3 separate regions of the Homo sapiens genome follow, and all the other regions are linked to region 2. The links come from fine-mapping of genetic effects on gene expression. A gene starts in region 2. Each other region holds a variant in brackets. All regions are shown on one strand. Distances are from middle to middle.

Evidence for each region. PIP is the estimated chance that this variant, and not a neighbour inherited with it, causes the effect. A credible set is the group of variants that fine-mapping cannot tell apart.
Region 1: its variant is the best candidate, but not a certain one, in a credible set for the expression of EPHB6 in whole blood (Lepik 2017, PIP 0.84).
Region 3: its variant is the best candidate, but not a certain one, in a credible set for the expression of EPHB6 in whole blood (TOPMed, PIP 0.88).

Annotation. Positions count from the first base shown.
Region 1 is chr7:142,716,307-142,725,089 of GRCh38, forward strand. It overlaps TRB, TRBV28 and the pseudogene PGBD4P1. Among named protein-coding and RNA genes, the nearest start is that of PRSS1, 29 kb to the right of the region's middle. The variant C/T (reference allele first, on the strand shown) is at 5,914.
Region 2 is chr7:142,852,269-142,857,268 of GRCh38, forward strand. It overlaps EPHB6 (EPH receptor B6), which reads left to right and starts at 2,808. Exons shown (of 20, transcript NM_004445.6): 1 at 2,808-3,117.
Region 3 is chr7:142,789,947-142,799,885 of GRCh38, forward strand. LOC124901762 (a long non-coding RNA gene) reads right to left here and starts at 6,745. Exons shown (of 2, transcript XR_007060565.1): 1 at 6,662-6,745; 2 at 6,036-6,304. It also overlaps TRB, TRBC1, TRBD2, TRBJ2-1, TRBJ2-2 and the pseudogene TRBJ2-2P, and 5 more genes. The variant G/A (reference allele first, on the strand shown) is at 4,884.

The DNA.
Region 1 (8,783 bases), 130 kb before region 2:
ATGAAACCCAGCACCTCCTATTTTCTTCCTCTCAGCAGATGGTCCAAATGCCCAAGCCAGAGATGCAAGACTGATCTTCACTCTCTCTCTGACTTTCTCCTTCCACACCAAATCCACTACCCTATCCTGCATTTTTCTAAGTACTAAATTCCTCACAAATTTTACTAACTTTTCTAATTTCACTGATCTCACCTGGATCACTTTAGCCACCTTCCAAGTAGCCACCCTACCTGCAAGCCTGCACCTGCTCCCACCCAAAACCACTCCCTCAAGCTTAAAACCCTTTGGTTTATTTCTATTAACTAGCTAAAGTCTCAAGTTTATGTTAGTTTGCAAGTCTCTCAGCCCCTCCATGATGTGACCTTTGCATATCCCCCACCTTTCTAACACTGACTTCCCTTATCCTTCAACTACCACAACTGCCTGCATCTACTCCAGAAACATCCCATTTCTCGCACATCCCCAAATATGTCCACTGCTGACTCACTCCTGGGTCTTTATCTACAATGGTCACTCTACCCAGAATACCATTTCTCTCTCTGGTATTCATCTGTTCTTCCAGCTGCTCTTTTTGTGCAGACTGCAGCTGGCTGTGCAGCACTGTGGATAAACTGCTGGTGCAAATGTACAGAGAGGTCTGGACTGGGCGACTCCAGGAATGGGGGAGATTCTCCTTCATAGACCAATTTAGAAGTCACTTCCTCCAAGACGATTGCCTTGAATCATTGACTGGATTATTTCTCCGCTGTGTGTTCTTCTAACAGCCTGAACAGAGCTAACACCAACACCGAGACACCACCATGAACTCACCAGCCATTGACTTCTCTGTTCTATAGCTTTTTGCCTCTTTGGAATAGGCATGTCATGGGTGCAGGTATGACGTCCTTGAACTTGGTTTGCTAGACCCTACATTAAGCCTTTTTCTGGTGGTTACACATCAGTATATTTCCTAAGTTCTCTCTTTTTAGCCACAATGTCCATGAATGCTGGTGTCACTGAAATTTCAGTTTATCAAGTTTCAGAGTCAGAATATAAAGTTCTATATTACAACCAGAATATGTTTTATGACCAATATGTGCTGAGCCAGACAAGAGGCAGGAATGAAGCTCCAACTAATCTATTTCTCAGTTGGTGCTTGGAGTACAAACAAATAGAGAGTCTCTAATAGACCTGTGTCTCTTGAGATAAGACTGAGCATTTCTTTTTTTTAATATATATATACTTTAAGTTCTATTTCTTGCAACCTCCAGACATCCAGCCCTTCATAGACACTGCCAGCCGTTAACCCGAAGCCCTGCACAGCCACTTCCTCTCTGAACAGAAAAGACTGCCACAAGGGGAGAGACGGTCTTACCTTCCTGAGCCTGCCCTTGCCAGAGGAAGCCACTGCCACCGCAGAAGCACTTAGGAGCCTTTCCCACCTCCTTGCACTGAGACTTATGGAACTCTTGAGGGCCCTAGTCTGTAAAAGTCCATCCCCGGCCTGGCGCAGTTGCTCATGCCTGTAATCCCAGCACTTTGGGAGGCTGAGGTGGGTGGATCATGAGGTCAGGAGTTCGAGACCAGCCTGGCCAACATGGTGAAACCCCATCTCTACTAAAGATACAAAAAATTAGTCAGGCATGATGGTGCACACCTATAATCCCAGCCACTTGGGAGGCTGAGGCAGGAGAATTGCTTGAACCCAGGAGATGGAGGTTGCAGTGAGCCGAGATCGCACCATTGTACTGCATCCTGGGTGACAGGATGAGACTCCGTCTCAAAAAAAAAAAAAAAAATCTATCCCCAGATCACGGTGCGCCTGTGAGACAGAGCTGTCAATGTCCTCTTTCCCTTCCTTCTCATTTGCTGTTTCAATAGGGCTTCATCAGCCTGAGTTCTTTATTAGAATTGACCTGCATCAATCCAGTGCCCCCCTCATACCACCTACTAGGGAAGGCTGCATTCTACATTACGGTCTTCAGGGATCCTCTCTGGGGCCCCACATGCTTCCCTTTTTGTTTACCTGTGTCTCGGGGCAATTTTAATCTTAGTCTTATACTTTTCATTTAAGCAGGTTAGGCTACACTATACACTTACAGATTTTGCCAGTAGAAGCTTTGAGACTTCACATCTTGTAAAATAAAAAAAAAAAATTGTACTAAAGATAACAATGTTTATGGTTGTGAAGCTTTTTTTGTAAGCAAATAGTCTGGTGAAACTGAAGTTCAAAGGTGTTTGTGTTGGGTAGCTGTGTCAGTATGCTTGATTTATGGTAAGGCCAAGTCTGTTGGATTAGATATTAGATATTCACAGTAATGTCAAAACTAAGGAATATAGTCTGAATAATTACAATAACTATTTTATATTATTGCAAACAACTTAAAAACTATTGTGACTTGATTGATTCATACTATGCATGGATACAGTTTCAAAACCTGTTTAGACCATCAGAAAGTTTTAATGAATAATGTTAGCAAAATAACCACAAGTAAAGTGTTACCGGAAAATGCAGTATAAGCATCACACTGACAGTTGTAGCTGACCCTTTTGTTTTGATCAGTGGTTCTCGATGTGTACCAAAATTACTTGGTGAGATTTCTTTTTATTGTGGGAATAACACTTAGCATGAAATCTAACCTTTAAACAAAACTAATGTGCAATATGATATTGTTAACTCTAGGTACAATGTTGCATAGCAGATTTCTAGAATGTAATTATCTTGTATAATTGAAACTTTACACCAATTGAATGGCAGCTCAGTTCTTCCTTCTCCCATTTTCCTGGCAATTATCATTCTGTTCTCTGCTTCTCTGTGTTTGACATAATGCTAAGTGAAATGAGCCAGTCACACAAGGACAAATCTTTCATTGAAGGAGTCTTTTATCACCAAAAGTATTTAGAATTCCTGGCACTTGGTGATAATAAAAGCAAAACCATTTCACTTGGGTTTTATGATTGTTTTAAAATGCTTTGCACCCTTTATCGCTTGCACCTGGGGCTGAACACACCTACCACCCCATTATTGATATACCACCATCTCCCCAACCCCATCAGGTAAACCTACACATGTGAGCACTCACATGAACCTACACATGTGGATTTGAACCAGATTCAAACCCAGGCAGCATAGTTCCAAAGCCTGCCCTATTACCCAATATGCTACTTGTAGTAATTATTAAGTATATTGTATGAGAAACTAAGACTGCTCTCAATAAAATATATGTTGAGAGTGAGGAGAGACAGACAGAGAGAGAGAGAGAGAGAGAAAATGGTAAGGTTTTCCTAATCACAGTTGGTCAGGAAAAAAATTACCTTCACTTTCAAAGACTGAGACTCACCAGAAGGACTCATGGGACTCGGCGTGTCCTTGTACTCATAGCAAAGATGTATCACAAATATGTAGTAAGAATACTATGATCACAAGGAACAAAGACATGGTGGACTTTGGAGAAATCCATGTGAGACTTCCTTATGTTCTCTTCCATGAGAGAGCACACTCTCACCCCAACAATGAAAATGCAGCAACGTGAGAACAACCTTTCTGCCCAGGGAAGCTCATTAGAGACTCAGCACCTCCAATACTTTCAGTGGCTGGTGTTAGGTGCTGAATCGTGTCATTAAACATTCATATGTTGAAATCCCAGCCTCCAGTACTAAGAATATGACTATGTTTGGAGATAAGGATTTTACAGAGGTGGTTAAGGTTAAATGAGGTCCTCACTAATATGACTGGGATCCTTATAAGAAGAAATTAGGACACAAACATGCATAGAGGGAAGACAATGTGCAGACACAGGGGGAAGCCATCTACAAGCCAAGGAGCGAGGCTCCACGAGAAACCAACCATGCTGACACCCCGATCTTGGATGTCTAGTCTCCAGATGTATGAGAAAATACATTTCTGTTGCTTAAATGACCTAGTCTGTGGTGACTTATGGCAGCCCTCGCAAAATAATTCAGCTGATCACATTGGCACCCTCTGCCTATCATGCAGCATAATTCCAGACTTGACGTAAAGCAAGTGTTCAGCCTAACCCACGTGGTTTGTGCAAGCAGTCTAGACACACTAAGCCATGCTTACCAGTTACTATAGTGGGAACACTCCCAAAATTCAAGTTCGCAGATGCAAATCAAGAGCCAACCATGCAAGCAGTCCCTTCTAAGGCCAGCAGTCTCAGGCCCGCTGTGTCAACTCTTTTCTATACGTGCACATACACACAGTGACACTTCCATGAGCACAAGGGATGTCCTTCACTCTCTAGCACCTCTAGACCCTTTCTAGTCTAGACAATGGCTGAGGGATTATGAGAGTGGGCCGGGACAATGACATCACAGACCATCAACCCACTGCCTGGTCCTGGGAGAAGACCTATTCTTTCTTCAAAGCAGCCATGGGAATCAGGCTCCTCTGTCGTGTGGCCTTTTGTTTCCTGGCTGTAGGTGAGTCCTGGGAGTTGCTGGGTCTGGGGAGTTGGTGGCAACCCCTGTCCTACTATTTTGAGGTCTTTTATACCAAGCTCTTTTCTCCTCTCCTCCTTGATGGCCTGTTTTTCACCCTTGCTTTCTGTCTCTCACAGGCCTCGTAGATGTGAAAGTAACCCAGAGCTCGAGATATCTAGTCAAAAGGACGGGAGAGAAAGTTTTTCTGGAATGTGTCCAGGATATGGACCATGAAAATATGTTCTGGTATCGACAAGACCCAGGTCTGGGGCTACGGCTGATCTATTTCTCATATGATGTTAAAATGAAAGAAAAAGGAGATATTCCTGAGGGGTACAGTGTCTCTAGAGAGAAGAAGGAGCGCTTCTCCCTGATTCTGGAGTCCGCCAGCACCAACCAGACATCTATGTACCTCTGTGCCAGCAGTTTATGCACAGCGCAGCACAGCCGCATCCTCTCTGCACAAAAAGAGCGGACGTAAGAGAGAAGGGGCCCTAACTCAGGGCTGGTGCTGGCTCCGATGGCACATTCGTGCTAAATAGAAAAAAAGCGGCCACTAAGGAGAAACTAGCTCCATAAGCACACTTCTTTGCAAGGAGAGAATGAGGTATTATTTTTCACCCCTTTACAAGTCAGGGACTGTTCTGGATTTAATTCCCCCAGTCCGATGTGTTGTAAATTCACGAGTCCCAACAAGGAGGAAAAGTCCTCTCGCATATTCACAGTGTAACCCTGTTCTACCATTTCGTTAATCAATTTTACCTTCCCTTTTCTATCCTCGTCTCTCTTAACTGTGCATTTTCTACTTTGCTTAGTGTTTTGCTCTTGGTTGACATTTCACTAGAGGACATTAACATATTCTAAATTCTTTCGATGATTTTTACTGTGCCTGTGCTGATTCAAGAGAAAGTTTGTGGAATTTGAATTTTGTTCATTCAATTTAGAAAGAGAAAAACTCTGATTAAAACAAATTCTTCCAGGTTCTCCGATCAATCATATTTTGCTGGAAAAAATTCTGATCACAGAAGGTTTAAACTCTGCTGCAGAAGGTGGTAGGAATTTGGTTATAACTGAACTCACAATCTTCTGGAAAAAGTGTGTATTTGTCTGTCTTTAAGAATAAAACATATGCTCTTCTGTCAGTAAAAATTAACAGTGCTTTGGAAATACAAATAAATGTAAAGGGTATTAGAAATCCCAAACTGCAGAGCACTTGCACAATTATTATTGGCAAGACAAAACAGGCATCTGAAAACGTATTTTGATTCAGTGCTAAATTTTTGTGTGGAAGAAGTCAGAGAAAAAAATTGAATGAATGTGTATCACAATATTCAAGATTAAGTTTGTGTGAGATAGGACTTGAGCTGATTTTGAATACAAGTAAATGAGGGAAGAGAAACCATCAAAAGGAAGAAATACCCTGCAAATGTTTCTGTGAGAGAGTCTACCAGAAGGAAGAGGAAGATTCTTTCCCTGAGGAAAGACAGGAAT[C/T]ACAATTCTCCTGGCCGAGGTCAACATCCAGAACAGAGAAAGCACATCTTCCCAGAATATCATTAAAATCCTTTCCCTTTTGCGCCGAGAATACATGCTAGCGGTGCTTGCGGCTGCAGCGTTTCCCCTGAGATAACACACAAGGTTTGATACAAGAAATTCTTTCTCCACCTTCTAAACATTACAGTGCTTAACTCCTACATCCTGTTCAAGAAGGAGAATTCTGAGCACACGGTTTGCCATAGAAACTTCAGACTGACATTGATTAAAAGGATGCTGAAAAAGCATCGTGAGCCAGGGCAGCAACGTCTCTGGGGTCGTCCACGCTCTGATGATGTCACACCTCTTGGCCCACCTGGAAGACATTTTCCCAACAGCATTACCACCATCAAAGAAACAAAACCCAACTGGTCACTGCACTTTTGCTGCTCACACAATGACGAGGATGGCAAGATCTATAGAGAACGGCAATATTTTTGTGCGGAATGTGATGTTTCACTTTCTGTTGTTCCGTGCTTTGAAATTTTCCCACACGAAAAAATTATCTAATAGTGATTATTATATACATTTCTGTGATGTTAGGATTAGAGGCCAGTTCTGTTTAGAAATAATTCCAAGAACAGTTTTTATATTTTATTTTCATGTTGATAATCAGTCAAATTTGCTTCAGCCTCAAAGAGCATGTTTATGTCAAATTAAATGAATGCTGGCAGCGAGCTGCACTTTTTTTACTAAACAGGAAAAGGGTTAAATAACAGAACACTGTATCTACAGATTTTCATATTCAGTGAAACTTCAGGTTTTCTGAGAGTCCTACATTTTCCCACAGATTATTTATTTCTTATAGCAAGTATTGCCCAGACTCAGAAGATCAACTGCAAGAGATGGGAACAGGTACCAGCACTTTGCGTCCATTCCCAGGGCTATGTGGGACCATTTCCAACACAGGGGTCATCACCTCAATTGAGTCCCTGGTAGAAAGAGTGCTATGCCAGACTCAGCTTCCCTTCTGGCATGGTTACCACCTGCTCCCTCCAACACAGCCTCACCTTGCTAAGAAAATGCAGCCCAGGGAGAGAGGAAGAACACATAAAAAAATGAAAATGAAAATAGGCAGAGATGGAGTATCAAACATCAAAGTGAGTAACAGAAGACATCTAAAGAGGTCAAAAGGATTGTAGATTGGGATAGGAGGTTTGAATTTAGAAAAAAAATGAAAAAGTGTTCACGGGGGAGTTCACAGTTTACAGAATAGACTTTTTTTTTCTTCTTCTTTTGAAATGGAGTCTCGCTCTGTTGCTGAGGCTGGAGTGCAGTGGCACAATCTTGGCTAATTGCAACCTACACCTCCCAGGTTCAAGTGATTCTCCTGCCTCAGCCTCCCGAATAGCTGGGATTACAGGCGCACGCCACCATGCCTGGCTAATTTTTGTTATTTTTAGCAGAAATGAGTTTTCATTATGTTGGTCAGGCCGGTCTCGAACGCCTGACCTCTTGATCTGCCCACCTTGGCCTCACAAAGTGCTGGGATTACAGGTATAAGCTACCACGCCTGACCCACATAATAGACTTTTAAAGGCACATAATAGATCATGGATGTTTACCATGAGGGTACAGAGAATAATTCAGAAAATGTAAACCATTATTTCACTAAACATACATAAACATACATCACATTAGGAGACCAACAAATTCACAGAACATAAAAATTGATACTCTAAATCTCCAAGTAAGCAATGTTTGTTTATCTATTTATTTATTTTGTTTTACTTTAAGTTCAGGGATAGATGTGCAGAATGTGCAGGTTTGTTACATAGGTATACATGTGCCATGGTGGTTTGCTGCATCTATCAACCTGTCATCTAGGTTTTAAGCCCTATAAGCATTAGCTGTTTGTCCTGATGCTCTCCCTCCCCTCGCCCCCGACCCCCAACAGGCCCTAGTGTGTGTTGTTTCCCTCCCTGTGTCCACATGTTATCACTGTTAAACTCCCATTTATGAGTGAGAACATGCGGTATTTGGTTTTCTGCTCCCATGTTAGTTTGCTGAGGATAATGGCTTCCAGCTTCATCCATGTCCCTGGAAAGGACATGATCTCATTCCTTTTTATGGCTGCATAGTATTCCATGGGGTATACATGCCACATTTTCTTCATCCAGTCTATCATTGATAGGCATTTGGGTTGGTTCTATGTCTTTTAAGCAATGTTTTAAATTATGTGATTTGGGAAAATATAACAAAATAAATTATTTTTTGTTGAATGGGAGTATTAACAGGGCTCTTTGATGGGACATGGCTGGGAAGATGTCTGGCCTCTTCCTGCAGGGAACAAGGAAAATTTAGAGAAGGAGGCAATTTTTTTTTCTCTAGAGTCCACTGAGATATCACAGGTAGTTTATACATATAAAATACAGCAGCCCTGACATACAGATATTATTTTCTCCTAATTAAAAATAAATTTAAATAAGTGAAGTGTAATTAAACCTAAATTTAAATGACTTGCCTATAACCTCACAGCTGAAAAGTTAGTGGAAAGGCATGTTTCTATATTGTTTTTTAAATAATAAGATAATTGAATCCAAGATAGGTATATTTCCATCTTCAGCTGAATGGGTCCCAAGACCAACCATTAGGTGAAAGACGTAATCCACACAGCCAGGGAATTCTACCTTCTACCTTTGTAACAGCAAGATAGCCATAGCACCAAAGACATTTTTAATGTCTTAGCACAAGCTTCTAACACCTCCATTTTGAAGTAGAAGGATGAAGGCTTGAGAGCAGAAACTGGATCTTGTTAGTGATGGACAAGTGGACATAGTCATATTAATTGTGCGTTTTACAAGATTCTTTGATAATCACTATTAAACCAG
Region 2 (5,000 bases):
CTTTGTTTATGACAACATCAGCTTACATTAGCTGTTCTAAGGGGAAATAAGGAAGAAGAAAATTGCACATCCTAGGGGAGTGAGCAAAGCCCAAGAAGGAGGCAAAAACTCAGAAAAAATGAGGCAGAACCAATCTAGGAGCCTTCCTATCTCACCTGGAGTTTTCTACTCAGCAGTTCCTTTTGGTTCCAAATTTACATAATAGATTGTTGTGTGCCAGAAATGATTAATTCTGTGAGCCATAAACTTTATTAGGTCCTGCCCATTAGCAATACTCCAGGGTTTTTTTTTTGAACAAGTCAAAAAAAAAAAATATATATATATACACACATATATATATAGAAAGAAACAGGGTCTCACTCTGTCGCCCAGGCTGGAGTGCAGTAGGACAATCTTGGCTCACTGCAACCTCCGCCTCCCGGGTTCAAGCGATTCTCCCACCTTGGCCTCCTGAGTGTCTGGGACTATAGGCATGCATCACCATGCCTGGCTAATTTTTGTATTGTTTGGTAGAGATGAGGTTTCACCATGTTGGCCAGGCTGATCTCAAACTCCTGACCTCAAGTGATCCTCTCACCTCAGCCTCCCAAAGTGCTGGGATTACAGGCATAAGCCACTGTGCCCATCCACATAGAAAAAGTTTAAATATTATTTTTTATTGATTCATTCTATAACACTTCTAAGCACCTGGAGTGTCCCAGGCACCAAACAAATTATAGCAAAAAATTTACATTAAACTTTAAAAAGGAATTCATTACTTTGCTTTTTAATAGCTGCAGGTTGCAGCATACTTTAACAATGCATTCTATGCTCTCCACCTACCATTAAAACTTGGTTTGATAAGACATAGGCAATTAGGATGCAAAGCCGACTAATCACAAATTTAAACCTCTTTGCATCCTGAGTATGACACTTCCTTTGAAAACTAGATGCCTCTCAAATTTTATTAACAAGACAAATATAACTAATTACACAAGCCTTGAGCAGCAAAAACTTCATTTCATATTATAGTCACCTAATATGAGGTATATCATGAAATAGAAAAGAAGGCAGATATTTTTACTGTTATGTCAATACAGGATACGTTGCAAATTACTACAGGAATTTCTGGGTTTTATAAAGTAACAACTACGGTTTGGTTTTGTCCATATTTTTATTTTAACATAATCTAGTTATGTGTCTTTTTTTTAAGTTTTCAATATAACCATAGATGTCTAGCAATCAGGCATGTTAATGTATGAGTTACGTAATTCCACACACAATGCAAATTCTGTTTCTTTGCAGAAGTCTTTGAAAGCCTTGGAGATAACCAGAAAATGAAGGAAGCCCTCCACCACTGAGTTTCAGGGCAAAGGGAAGAAACAAGATAAAGTAGAACCGTCAGTACAAGTGGAATTATTAATGACGTCCAAATGCAGTCATTAAATACTATCAGACTTATTTATTGACTCCTGATATTAAGAGTGAACAAACCCCTGGCCAAGTGGGAACTTGCTCGGTAGCCTTTATCTTTCTATCACTCATTCAGTCAATTCATTAAAGCCTGTTTGTCTCTCCCAGGTGACTCTTACTGAGTTTCATTGTTTTGTTTATTGTGTTTGTTGGCTCATAGATCTCTTTCACAATTTTCTTCGGCTTCTGAATGCTCTTTAAGTACCAGTTTTGATCAGCCCATTTGCTTTAATAAACAGGAGAGCAAGATGGGACAGGGCGATACAGGGAGAAAAGGGGGCAAAGGGAATCGCACCGGGTGCTTGTGCTCCCTAGAAAAACCAGCAGGTGGTAGCAACACTTCGTGGCAAGGCCCCAGCCCAGCTCTGTAGGACCCAAACAATAGACCCCAAATCCCCGTCCTCGGCTAGAGAAGGGGTTAGAGGTGGGCGGAAACACTTTTCCTCGCGGCGCCCCCTCGGTTCCTCAACCCTGCCTCCAGGCGCCAGCTGAGAGCACCTTGCACCGCCCCTCCTCACTGCAGGGAGGTTCTCTCCGGAGCGCGGGCGAGGGAGGAGGCACCCAGAGGTGCAGCGACTTGCCCAAGCCATGTCAGAGCCAGGCGTACAGCAGCGCTTCCCCTTTTCAACCCGACTGCCCTGCCCCTTGGGGAGGGTAGATGGAGGGAGGTTCGACTCAGAAGCCCCAACGTTGACCAAGATCCAGACACGAAAAGAGAAAAGAGTTCCCGGCTAGCACGGCGACGCTTTCATACCGAGACGCCCCCCTCTCCCGCTGCCTCGGCTCCCCCTACCACCGCCCGTACTCTCCCAGATTTCTCAGTTTGTCTTTCCCTCCACCCCCTGCTTTTCCTTCCTTCTCTCTTGCTCAGCTCACGCCCACCTTAGTTCCAAGCTGAGTAGGAGCCCCACTGTTTTAGTTCCTAGAGTTAAAGCCGAAGAGGAGGGAGGCGCGAGGGGGTGTGTGCAGGGCTCTGCCCTGCCCTGAACTGCCACGGTCCGCCAGTTGCGCTTCGCTCCGCGGGTGTCCGACCCAAGCCGAGCCCGAGCCCGAGCCCAGGCAGGGGCTTTACAGACAGCCTCTTCCCTTCCCACTTCCTGCAGGCGCCCCACGCGTGCGATCCTCCCGGCCAAGACCCGCGGGAGGAGGCCGCCCCCTTCCCGGCGCACAGGCGGGGCCCCGGGCGCGCCCCGCGTCTCCCCCGCGCGCCGGGGCGGAGGAGCGGGCGCCGCGCACTCACCGCCTAGGCCGGGAGGGCGGGCTCGGCTCCCCGGAAGAAGGGAGTGGGAAGGCGGCCAAAGGGGCTGAAGGGGCGGGCCGGGCCGGCTTGGGAGGGGACGCGGAGGGGGCGGGCCGGGCTGCGTTCGCTCCAGCCGCGGCTCTACAGCAGCGGGCGGCGGGACCCGGGACCCAGCTTGGCGACGGCGATCTCGACGCGGGCCCCCAGGATCTCCCGGCGCCCCACCTCTGGAGCAGCCCCTGCCGCCAGCGTCAGGTCCACCCCGGAATCCCAGGGACTCTCGGCGCCGAACGGACCCGGGCCGGGTGCAACGGGGTCCCCGGACTGGAGAAGACGCGGGTGGCACCGTGCGAGCTCCAGGAGCCCCGGGTCCACTGCGAGGCCTCGGGGGGCGCAGACCTGCAGAGACTGCGGCCAACGGGAAGGTGAGCCCGCGGGGTTAGCAGGCGGCGTTGTGGGGGTCGGGGACAGTATGCTTGGGGACAGAGGAATTAAGGTTTGCAAGAGTAGTGGGGCTCCTCAGCCCCTAGGTGGCTTCCTGAGGGAGTACTGAGGATCCTTCCTCAAGGCCAGAGTGGGGTTCATGAAGGGTGAGGAAACGGTCAACCTGGCTACTCCCCTCTCACTCCACTCTGACCTGGCATCATTGACACCGCATTACCCTTGCTGTTAGGATCCCCCAGTTGCGTTCCCAGACATTCTCCTCTGGCTCTGGCTTGGGAGTCCTAATCTGGGAGGGTCCTCGCAGAGACGGAGCTCCACGCTTGGAACAGGATTGCCACCCCTCTGACTCCAGTGGCATCACTCCAATCCCCTTGGAGCTGGGAGGAGTCAGGAGGCTGACCACACACCTGTCCCCTGCTCCCCACAAGGCACTGTCCCCCCCAGCTCCATGACCACAGTTAAGCCTTGGAGGTGGAAGGAACGCTTGGTTCCTGCTGCCCAGCCATCACCCCCAACGTGCAACCAAATTCTATTGCGTGCTCCTGCCCCAGCTCCACCCTCGCTCTGCTCCCTCCATCTGGGTGCTTGGCCCTGCTTGCCCCACACCCCCACCCACCGATCTTGGCCGTCTGGCACCCTCTCTCCTCCCATCCCTGGGGGAGCTGGCATGGACCCAGCATAGCAATGTTGTAATGTCCCTGGCAGCGCCCATGGAGCGGAGCTGCTGGGTCTGTTCCCAGTTAACCCAGGCCCTCCGCCCGCCAGGGGAACTTGACTGAGGCTCTAGGAGGGGAGATGCTGGTCCTGAGCTGAGAGACCAGTGGGAGGGAGCTGTGTGGGGCTGTTAGTAGACCACAGAAGCTGCCCAAGTAAGGGGCATTGGAGCATTGAGGCTTCTGAGTGCTGCTCAGTGGGGCCACTTGGCTTTTCAGAGCAGTGGGCCTTTTTTCTCAAAGGAAGATTAGCGTGGGGGTGTCTATGTACTTACCTGGTGGCCTCAGAAGGAGGACTTGTTTGGAGTCTATTACTCCATTCAGGGTGCAAAAAGATGGTTGGCAATGACACTGAGTTACCAGAATGCTGGGGAGCAACAGGCTGGGGTGGGCTGAGCATGGGAAAGGCAGGATCCTCCTTCTGGGACGGCTGTTCTGCTATCACTCTGTCCTGAGCCTGGGCCCTAGACCCTGAGTTCCCACTCTAGGTAGAAGGAGGATGGCAGGTTCTGGAGGGTTTGGGAAGCCTCAGGTTTCCCTTTCTTTACCCACTCCTCCCCGCCCCCCACTTGGCTCCCTCTCCCAGCCCAGGTGTTTCTGCAGAAGTACCTCCTGGGGCCAAGAGCAACTCACAGCCAGACTGGGGGTAGAGCAGGGGCCGAAGGTGAGGAAGAAGGGCCCATGGAACCACTCCGGAACCAGCACTGATGTGCATCTTCTGCCACAGGAAAGCAACAGCCCCCATCTACACAGACAGCATCTGCTCCCGCCCACCTCATCTCATACACATTCCCTTACACACTCCACCAGGTAGACACACATCCTCAGGCACTGCTGACGCAGGTGCTACTCCTGGCACTCAGGGGCTTTCTTCCACAACCTTCCACTTACTCATCTCTCAGGCACATTTGCCTCCTGCCTTAACACCCTCCCTTATGCTCTTTTCCAGAGCCACGCATGTCCCCGGTCAGTGCACAGAGTGGCTCATTCTAAGTGGCTGTCTGGCTAGACCTAGACACTGCCTGCATCTTAAAAGCCTCCCCCAGCTCCACAGCCTGGGAGTGGGAGGCACATTTGTCTGAGTCACAGTGCTCTGGGGGACATTCTCAGGGGCTGGAGGCCTCCAGGGACACAGGACTGTCCTCTGCTAG
Region 3 (9,939 bases), 60 kb before region 2:
ACCCAGCTACTTTTTGCATTTTTAGTAGAGATAGGGTTTCACTGTGTTAGCCGGGCTGTTCTCAAACTCCTGACCTCGTGATCCGCCTGCCTTGGCCTCCCAAAGTGCTGGGATTACAAATGTGAGCCACTGCACCCAGCCAAGACTCCATTCTCTTAAGCCTCAGAATCTATGCTAGAACAATAGGGTAAAGGCCCCACCAGGAAGCCCTAGTACAACCTTCCCCATGCTGGGGAGGAAGCAGACAGGCGGTGGAGCGGGGTTGGGATGGGATGAGGTCTAGGATGGAGACATAGACAAGGGTGGAGGAATGGGACTCATAGGGTCTACCAAAGTTTAGGGGCTTGGGCAGACATTAGTGTAGGTGGGGACACACACCAAGACGTTGAGTGGAAAGTACAAATCACCAGATTCAAAGGCCTGGGTTCAAGGGGCTGTGGTGGGGGAGGTGTGCAATTTGAAAAGCAACTTAAGCTGCCTCCTCTCTAAGACATAGAAACAGAAGAGACTAACTTATATGAAAATCCTTTGTAAAGGATTTTGTAAAGGACTCAACTTGTGGTGACAATCCTTTTCATTCCTGTTGTTTATGATCACTAGGTCACAGGGTTTGCCTTTTTCCAAACCTGCATCTCAATTTTCCCATCAAAAACATTTCCCAAATTTGGATAAAGAACCCATATCTAGACTTGCCACATTTCTGCACCAAAAGCTCACTCTCATGGTTGGAACAGAGCCAAGCAAAGGGCACAGTAAATTGTGGTTTCTTCCACTCCTCATGTGTCTTCAGATGAAATCATTCTTTCCAATAATCCCAGAAATTCTTTCTCTCCTCTCTCAAGCATGTGAAAAGGTCCAGAGCTCTGCAGTGTGAGCTTTCTACTGAAATGGCCCTTGGACTTTGTGGTTCATTCATACTCAGTGGTCTAGCTTGTACTACTTTTGAGAATGCAAAGCTTAACTGTGGACGGATTCCAATCCTGGCCAGGCAGGGTTGCTGGACACTCTGAGAGAAGAAAGGGTTAATCCCATGACCATCAACTTCCATGGGATTTCAGCCATCCTGGACAAGCTACCACACCCTCCTGCCCCAGGGGAGGAGGAAATGTGGACCATCCCATCAGATATTGACCAGGTTTGGCTCTTTAAAGAGGGTTACATGCAAGAAAATAAAATTTTTTAAAAAGGTGCTGGGCAGGTGGGGGACTCAGATGTAATGGAAAAGTGTCTTTTCTAGAAAAGAAAAGCTAATTCTAATATGTGTCACTACCCCACGAGACAAATATATACATCTTGATTTAAAAAAGGAAAATTATAATTAGAAAAAGTCAATTTAGTTATTGTAATTATACCACTAATGAGAGTTTCCTACCTCGAGTTTCAGGATTACATAGCCATGCACCAAGCAAGGCTTTGAAAAATAAAGATACACAGATAAATTATTTGGATAGATGATCAGACAAGCCTCAGTAAAAACAGCCAAGACAATCAGGATATAATGTGACCATAGGAAGCTGGGGAGACAGTAGGCAATGTGCATCCATGGGACAGCATAGAAAGGAGGGGCAAAGTGGAGAGAGAGCAACAGACACTGGGATGGTGACCCCAAAACAATGAGGGCCTAGAATGACATAGTTGTGCTTCATTACGGCCCATTCCCAGGGCTCTCTCTCACACACACAGAGCCCCTACCAGAACCAGACAGCTCTCAGAGCAACCCTGGCTCCAACCCCTCTTCCCTTTCCAGAGGACCTGAACAAGGTGTTCCCACCCGAGGTCGCTGTGTTTGAGCCATCAGAAGCAGAGATCTCCCACACCCAAAAGGCCACACTGGTGTGCCTGGCCACAGGCTTCTTCCCTGACCACGTGGAGCTGAGCTGGTGGGTGAATGGGAAGGAGGTGCACAGTGGGGTCAGCACGGACCCGCAGCCCCTCAAGGAGCAGCCCGCCCTCAATGACTCCAGATACTGCCTGAGCAGCCGCCTGAGGGTCTCGGCCACCTTCTGGCAGAACCCCCGCAACCACTTCCGCTGTCAAGTCCAGTTCTACGGGCTCTCGGAGAATGACGAGTGGACCCAGGATAGGGCCAAACCCGTCACCCAGATCGTCAGCGCCGAGGCCTGGGGTAGAGCAGGTGAGTGGGGCCTGGGGAGATGCCTGGAGGAGATTAGGTGAGACCAGCTACCAGGGAAAATGGAAAGATCCAGGTAGCAGACAAGACTAGATCCAAAAAGAAAGGAACCAGCGCACACCATGAAGGAGAATTGGGCACCTGTGGTTCATTCTTCTCCCAGATTCTCAGCCCAACAGAGCCAAGCAGCTGGGTCCCCTTTCTATGTGGCCTGTGTAACTCTCATCTGGGTGGTGCCCCCCAGCCCCCTCAGTGCTGCCACATGCCATGGATTGCAAGGACAATGTGGCTGACATCTGCATGGCAGAAGAAAGGAGGTGCTGGGCTGTCAGAGGAAGCTGGTCTGGGCCTGGGAGTCTGTGCCAACTGCAAATCTGACTTTACTTTTAATTGCCTATGAAAATAAGGTCTCTCATTTATTTTCCTCTCCCTGCTTTCTTTCAGACTGTGGCTTTACCTCGGGTAAGTAAGCCCTTCCTTTTCCTCTCCCTCTCTCATGGTTCTTGACCTAGAACCAAGGCATGAAGAACTCACAGACACTGGAGGGTGGAGGGTGGGAGAGACCAGAGCTACCTGTGCACAGGTACCCACCTGTCCTTCCTCCGTGCCAACAGTGTCCTACCAGCAAGGGGTCCTGTCTGCCACCATCCTCTATGAGATCCTGCTAGGGAAGGCCACCCTGTATGCTGTGCTGGTCAGCGCCCTTGTGTTGATGGCCATGGTAAGCAGGAGGGCAGGATGGGGCCAGCAGGCTGGAGGTGACACACTGACACCAAGCACCCAGAAGTATAGAGTCCCTGCCAGGATTGGAGCTGGGCAGTAGGGAGGGAAGAGATTTCATTCAGGTGCCTCAGAAGATAACTTGCACCTCTGTAGGATCACAGTGGAAGGGTCATGCTGGGAAGGAGAAGCTGGAGTCACCAGAAAACCCAATGGATGTTGTGATGAGCCTTACTATTTGTGTGGTCAATGGGCCCTACTACTTTCTCTCAATCCTCACAACTCCTGGCTCTTAATAACCCCCAAAACTTTCTCTTCTGCAGGTCAAGAGAAAGGATTTCTGAAGGCAGCCCTGGAAGTGGAGTTAGGAGCTTCTAACCCGTCATGGTTTCAATACACATTCTTCTTTTGCCAGCGCTTCTGAAGAGCTGCTCTCACCTCTCTGCATCCCAATAGATATCCCCCTATGTGCATGCACACCTGCACACTCACGGCTGAAATCTCCCTAACCCAGGGGGACCTTAGCATGCCTAAGTGACTAAACCAATAAAAATGTTCTGGTCTGGCCTGACTCTGACTTGTGAATGTCTGGATAGCTCCTTGGCTGTCTCTGAACTCCCTGTGACTCTCCCCATTCAGTCAGGATAGAAACAAGAGGTATTCAAGGAAAATGCAGACTCTTCACGTAAGAGGGATGAGGGGCCCACCTTGAGATCAATAGCAGAGGTTAATTCAGCGTGAAAGGCAGTGATGGGAGCTGAAGAGGTTACTTCTAGAACAGTCTAGGAAGACACAGATGTTGAGTATAGGAATTTTCTATATCCAACTATACTGTTCTGCCCAGGAAAGACGTGCTCAGAGGAAGAGCCAACCTATACAGGTGTGTTCACCCTCCAGCTGGCCATGTCCCCGTGACTAACAAAGCTGGATTCCATAAGCATCACCCACCTTCCTTGCAGCTTTCTTATTGAGCACTCCATTCATCTTCATTGGTTCACCAAGTTGATTTCCCAGCTCCAAAGAAGAGAGGCTCTGACTTGCAAACTTATTTTCAATGGAAGATGTGTCTTCCGGTTTAAGTTACCCATCTGTTTATAAATCTCTCTCTAGTGAATTAAACCAGAATGAAAATGTCCCCTAATCATTCCTGGAAGGTTAGAAAATAAAGGTATCTAAAACTGAGAATCAGCCCCATTCCTACTTCTAGAATTCCTTCAAAAGCTCCTTCTGTTGTCTCACTGTCACCATGGTGATGGAGTCCCAAATCCCAAAGGTGGCACAGAAGACCGGATGATTATCCTTGTCTCCTTCCACACTCTCCTCACTTCTCTCATCCCTGAAGCCCCTGAGCTGCTTCTTTCAGGCCGCTTTGCACATGCTCTTCCTCCTGGGGTGACAAAGTACTCTTCTCCCCATGATAACTCCTGCTTAGACTTAAAGATTTAGCTCCAATGTCTTCCCCTCCAAAAAGCTTTCTCTGGCCCTTTCTTGCCTCTTCCTTACCTCTTCCTCCCTTGAGGCTGGATTAAATACACCTTTATTTTGCTATCACAGTGCCTTGTGCATAACCTTCTTTGTGATACATCACACTTGCTGGAAACTACCTCTTTATTTGTCTGACACCCCCAGGGACTATGAACTCCTTGTTAACAAGGATACATTTTAAGATAGTATCCCAGGGCTATAGTATAGTAACCTCAGTTTAGTGTAGACACCACATAGGTATGTATGAATAAATAAATGAATAAATGAGTGAACCCAAACTGACCCAATCCAGGAGCAATCATCACCGTAAGTCCTGCCTGAAATAGCCATTACCCTTCCATTTATAGGACTACACCACACAGTCTTCCCTCTTTATTGCAACACATACATGCATTCAAAGATGCGTGTGTGCATGTATGCACACGCGTGTATATGTTTATATTTACACACATGTACACACATCCACTCATTAAACACATATCCCTGTGATGTGTTGTTATCAACTTCCAAGAAAATTAAGATACCCAAATTACAGTCCCCAAGAAGC[G/A]TATCTGTTCACAGAGCAACTCAATCATGAACAGAAAGAGCCAAACGCAAGTCCATGCTTTGAAAGAGCAACATGAACTGCTTACTAAAATGCAGTCAGAGAGTGGCCCTCAATTTCTCACTGGGATAATCAGTAAAGAGTCTGAGAAGGTGGCAATCTCTTCAAAGGAAGAATTGGTCTCAGTTGTTCACTCTAGAGAATGGCCATGCTGGTCAGAGGCATGAACAAAAGCCCTAATGACATGGCTAGGTACCTCTGGGTAGGCCCGTTTAGCTGGTTGCAAGGTTCAGAAATGGGAGTGCTCAAAATTAGCGCTGGAAAGGCAGGTTGGTGCATGCCACTCTGGGAATAAACTTACCTCCATGCAACCAGCATGGAGCCTGCACATGGTGGATGTTCACTAAACACCTGTGGAGTAAATGAAGAATATGGAGTTCAGACATCGTTCAGGAAGCAACTGAACAAAGGGAAATTATAGAGGTTTCTGGATTGTTTGTCCTCCTGTCATAAGGTGCCATCAACTGCTCTGTGGATTTTCCTATGAGCTGCCTGCCACCCCTCGCTCCTCCCACCCACTTCACTATAAATGCCAGTCTGAGCAGGTGGGCACAGTGAGCCCCACCAGGGAGACCCAGTGACATAGATGGTCTGCTCAGGGTGATGCATGTTCCAAGGAGGGACCTCTCTGCCCCCCACCATTACCATCACTGTGACTTTCCCCAAGCCCTTCCCATTTTAATTCACTGCCTTTGTCTTTTCCAAGCCCCACACAGTCAGACTAACCTCTGCCACCTGCGCTTCCTGCCGCTGCCCAGTGGTTGGGGGAGGGGGACTAGCAGGGAGGAAACATTTTTGTATCATGGTGTAACATTGTGGGGACTAGCGGGAGGGCACGATGATTCAGGTAGAGGAGGTGCTTTTACAAAAAACCCTGATGCAGTAAGCATCCCCACCCAGCTCAGGGAATGCAGCTACCAGGTGGGAAGAGTTCTCTGGGGCTGGTCCCAGCTGTGGTCTTGCAGGGTCCCCCAACCCAGCGAGCACCTGTCCATCTCCCTGTCCAGACTCGGCTTCCAAGGAATAAGAAGGCCAAGACAGCAAAGTGGGATTATCACTCAGCACTTTTAATAAAACTTGTTCTTGACAAAGTACTTGCACATGCATTATTTATTAAGAACTGATGAAAACCCTGAGGGAAAGATATTGTCCCATCTTTCCAATGAGGAAACTGAGATCAGAGGTTACAGGTCATATAACTAGGAAACGGCAAGGTCTAGCCTGCAATATCGCCCAGCTCCAGCCGTTCCAGTACCACCAATGCCCCTTCAGATTTCAAATCCACTGTGTTGTCCCCCAGCCAAGTGGATTCTCCTCTGCAAATTGGTGGTGGCCTCATGCAAGATCCAGGTTACCGTGTCCAGCTAACTCGAGACAGGAAAAGATAGGCTCAGGAAAGAGAGGAAGGGTGTGCCCTCTGTCTGTGCTAAGGGAGGTGGGGAAGGAGAAGGAATTCTGGGCAGCCCCTTCCCACTGTGCTCCTACAATGAGCAGTTCTTCGGGCCAGGGACACGGCTCACCGTGCTAGGTAAGAAGGGGGCTCCAGGTGGGAGAGAGGGTGAGCAGCCCAGCCTGCACGACCCCAGAACCCTGTTCTTAGGGGAGTGGACACTGGGCAATCCAGGGCCCTCCTCGAGGGAAGCGGGGTTTGCGCCAGGGTCCCCAGGGCTGTGCGAACACCGGGGAGCTGTTTTTTGGAGAAGGCTCTAGGCTGACCGTACTGGGTAAGGAGGCGGTTGGGGCTCCGGAGAGCTCCGAGAGGGCGGGATGGGCAGAGGTAAGCAGCTGCCCCACTCTGAGAGGGGCTGTGCTGAGAGGCGCTGCTGGGCGTCTGGGCGGAGGACTCCTGGTTCTGGGTGCTGGGAGAGCGATGGGGCTCTCAGCGGTGGGAAGGACCCGAGCTGAGTCTGGGACAGCAGAGCGGGCAGCACCGGTTTTTGTCCTGGGCCTCCAGGCTGTGAGCACAGATACGCAGTATTTTGGCCCAGGCACCCGGCTGACAGTGCTCGGTAAGCGGGGGCTCCCGCTGAAGCCCCGGAACTGGGGAGGGGGCGCCCCGGGACGCCGGGGGCGTCGCAGGGCCAGTTTCTGTGCCGCGTCTCGGGGCTGTGAGCCAAAAACATTCAGTACTTCGGCGCCGGGACCCGGCTCTCAGTGCTGGGTAAGCTGGGGCCGCCGGGGGACCGGGGACGAGACTGCGCTCGGGTTTTTGTGCGGGGCTCGGGGGCCGTGACCAAGAGACCCAGTACTTCGGGCCAGGCACGCGGCTCCTGGTGCTCGGTGAGCGCGGGCTGCTGGGGCGCGGGCGCGGGCGGCTTGGGTCTGGTTTTTGCGGGGAGTCCCCGGGCTGTGCTCTGGGGCCAACGTCCTGACTTTCGGGGCCGGCAGCAGGCTGACCGTGCTGGGTGAGTTTTCGCGGGACCACCCGGGCGGCGGGATTCAGGTGGAAGGCGGCGGCTGCTTCGCGGCACCCGGTCCGGCCCTGTGCTGGGAGACCTGGGCTGGGTCCCCAGGGTGGGCAGGAGCTCGGGGAGCCTTAGAGGTTTGCATGCGGGGGTGCACCTCCGTGCTCCTACGAGCAGTACTTCGGGCCGGGCACCAGGCTCACGGTCACAGGTGAGATTCGGGCGTCTCCCCACCTTCCAGCCCCTCGGTCCCCGGAGTCGGAGGGTGGACCGGAGCTGGAGGAGCTGGGTGTCCGGGGTCAGCTCTGCAAGGTCACCTCCCCGCTCCTGGGGAAAGACTGGGGAAGAGGGAGGGGGTGGGGAGGTGCTCAGAGTCCGGAAAGCTGAGCAGAGGGCGAGGCCACTTTTAATCTTTTTTCTGGGGTGTTTAGAGAGAAGGTGAACGATGGAGGAGAGGATTTGTTAGGACTCTGGGAGAGGCGAGACTGGAGAGGACGAAGGGAAATCCTGGTTTGGGGAATGGGTAGGAGTGGGGGTAACTGCTATTCGTAGGCAAAAAGAGCTGAGCAGGCTGGGAACAGCGCGGGTGGGCAAGGGTCAGCACTGCGGGCAGGCGGGTGGGTGTTAGGGGGCAGAAATCCTGCAGCCGAGGGTGCAGTAGAACACAGAAGAAAAAGCCTGCCAAACAAAAGTGGAACAGAGAAGCCAAAAAGGGAGATGAACATGAGTCAGTGAAGAAAAGAATGAAAGTTTACTGTTTAGCAGTGTGGATCTCTAATCCGACTTAAAACTCCTTGTTCCCGATTCCTATTCCTCCTAAGCCAGAGATCCCTGGGTCCAGGGTGAGGGCACGGCATTCATGCTTACCCACGGGCTGGTCAACAAAGAGGTGCTGACCTGAGAGTAGGGCACATAACCTCAGCCACTGGGGTACACTTACCACCCCCGCCCCCGTGTAGCTCCCTCCCCTATCCTGAAATCTCCCTTAGCACACTAAGTATTCTAGGTTAAACAGCCCAGATGTTCAGGGAGTTCATTCGCCACAAACACACATTAAAATGCAGACAATTTGCCTGTGAGATGAGGAAAATTCTCTGGAAGATTTAGGCCCTGAGAGCTGAAAAGGGACCCTAAACATTACCTGGTGACAACTGCCCTGAGGCCAGAGAAGAGAACTCACAATATTGGTATATTAACCGGTACCATTTGTAGTTAGGCTGTCATTAATCTGGGTGTAATGGGGCTCAGCTACAGAGAAGCGTATCCAGAGGAAATGTGGGGTTCCTGCAGTCAGCTGGGGCACCGAAAAGACCCAGACTTTAGAACCAGATAAAGGCTGAGTTCGAACCTCTGGTTCTTTTGTGATGTGGTGACCTTGGGCAAATTAATGTGTGAACCTCAGTTTCCTCAACTATAAAATGTAATGAACAATACCTACCACTTACTATTGCTGTGAGGAAGAAAAGAGAGTCAACATGTACCGTGTACAGATTATTGATGTAATTCAATGGTTCTTTTCCCCATCCTCCTAGGAGGTCACTGGGGAGACAGGGGGCAGGGTCAGCCCAGTGCCAAAGGATGGGCAGGATCTGAAGTGTGGAAATGGAGTAAGGCTGTGTCTGTGTCAGAGGTGGGTTGGGAAGATGTGAGACAAACATCACAATTTTGCCTAAGGTGAATCCAACCCACAAGTAGAGCACAGGCCAACAGCAGCTCACTAGTACACATACTTACACCAGCAGCTCACTAGTACACACACTTACACCAGACGCTCACTGGTACACACTCACACCAGAAGCTCATTAGAACACACACACCGTCAGCTTGCTAGTACACACACTTACACCAGAAGCTCACTAGTATACACTTACACCAGAAGCTCACTAGTACACACACTTACTCCAGAAGCTCACTAGTACACACACTTACACCCACAGAGACAAGCCCCACACCACACGGACTCACAAATGCAGAAGAAGAGTTGACCCTGCCCTCATGTACAGATAGTATGCTGGTGTGTAGTGAGAGGCGGCTAGTGTTCGCCACGCCTGTTGCATCAATAACTATTCCACAGAACAGCATACATGGTCAAGGAATATTTTTAATATTTACAATGAGGACTGAGTGTTTGCTAAATGAAGAAATCAAAGGAGTACATTCTGGAGGGCTGGTAGACTCCCAGAGCCAGGGTTTTTGAGATGAGAGTGAAAATAAGCAGGCTGAGAGCAGAAAGAAAGAAAGTTCTGCAGATAGAAGTTAGGATATTACCACTTCGGCCCCAGCCCAGCCAGTAAATGTTTAGAAGCATAGTAGTAATTAGCAGGTAGGAGTTGTGGGGAGGAAAGGAAACTGACATGATGGGAAGCAGGACCAGCTACAAAATCTTCAGGACCAGCTCAGAATGAAAATGCCGGGGCTCGTGTTAAATCTTAGGATTTCAACATGGTGACAGCAGAGCACTAAACCAAGCAGGGGGCCCTTCTAGCAGGAGGCCCCATGGGGACCTAGGAAGGAGGTCACATCCATACAAATGTAAAGAAATGTCAGAGTAAATTTCCTCCATTGTCCAGGAGATTCGGAATAGGTTCTCCTAA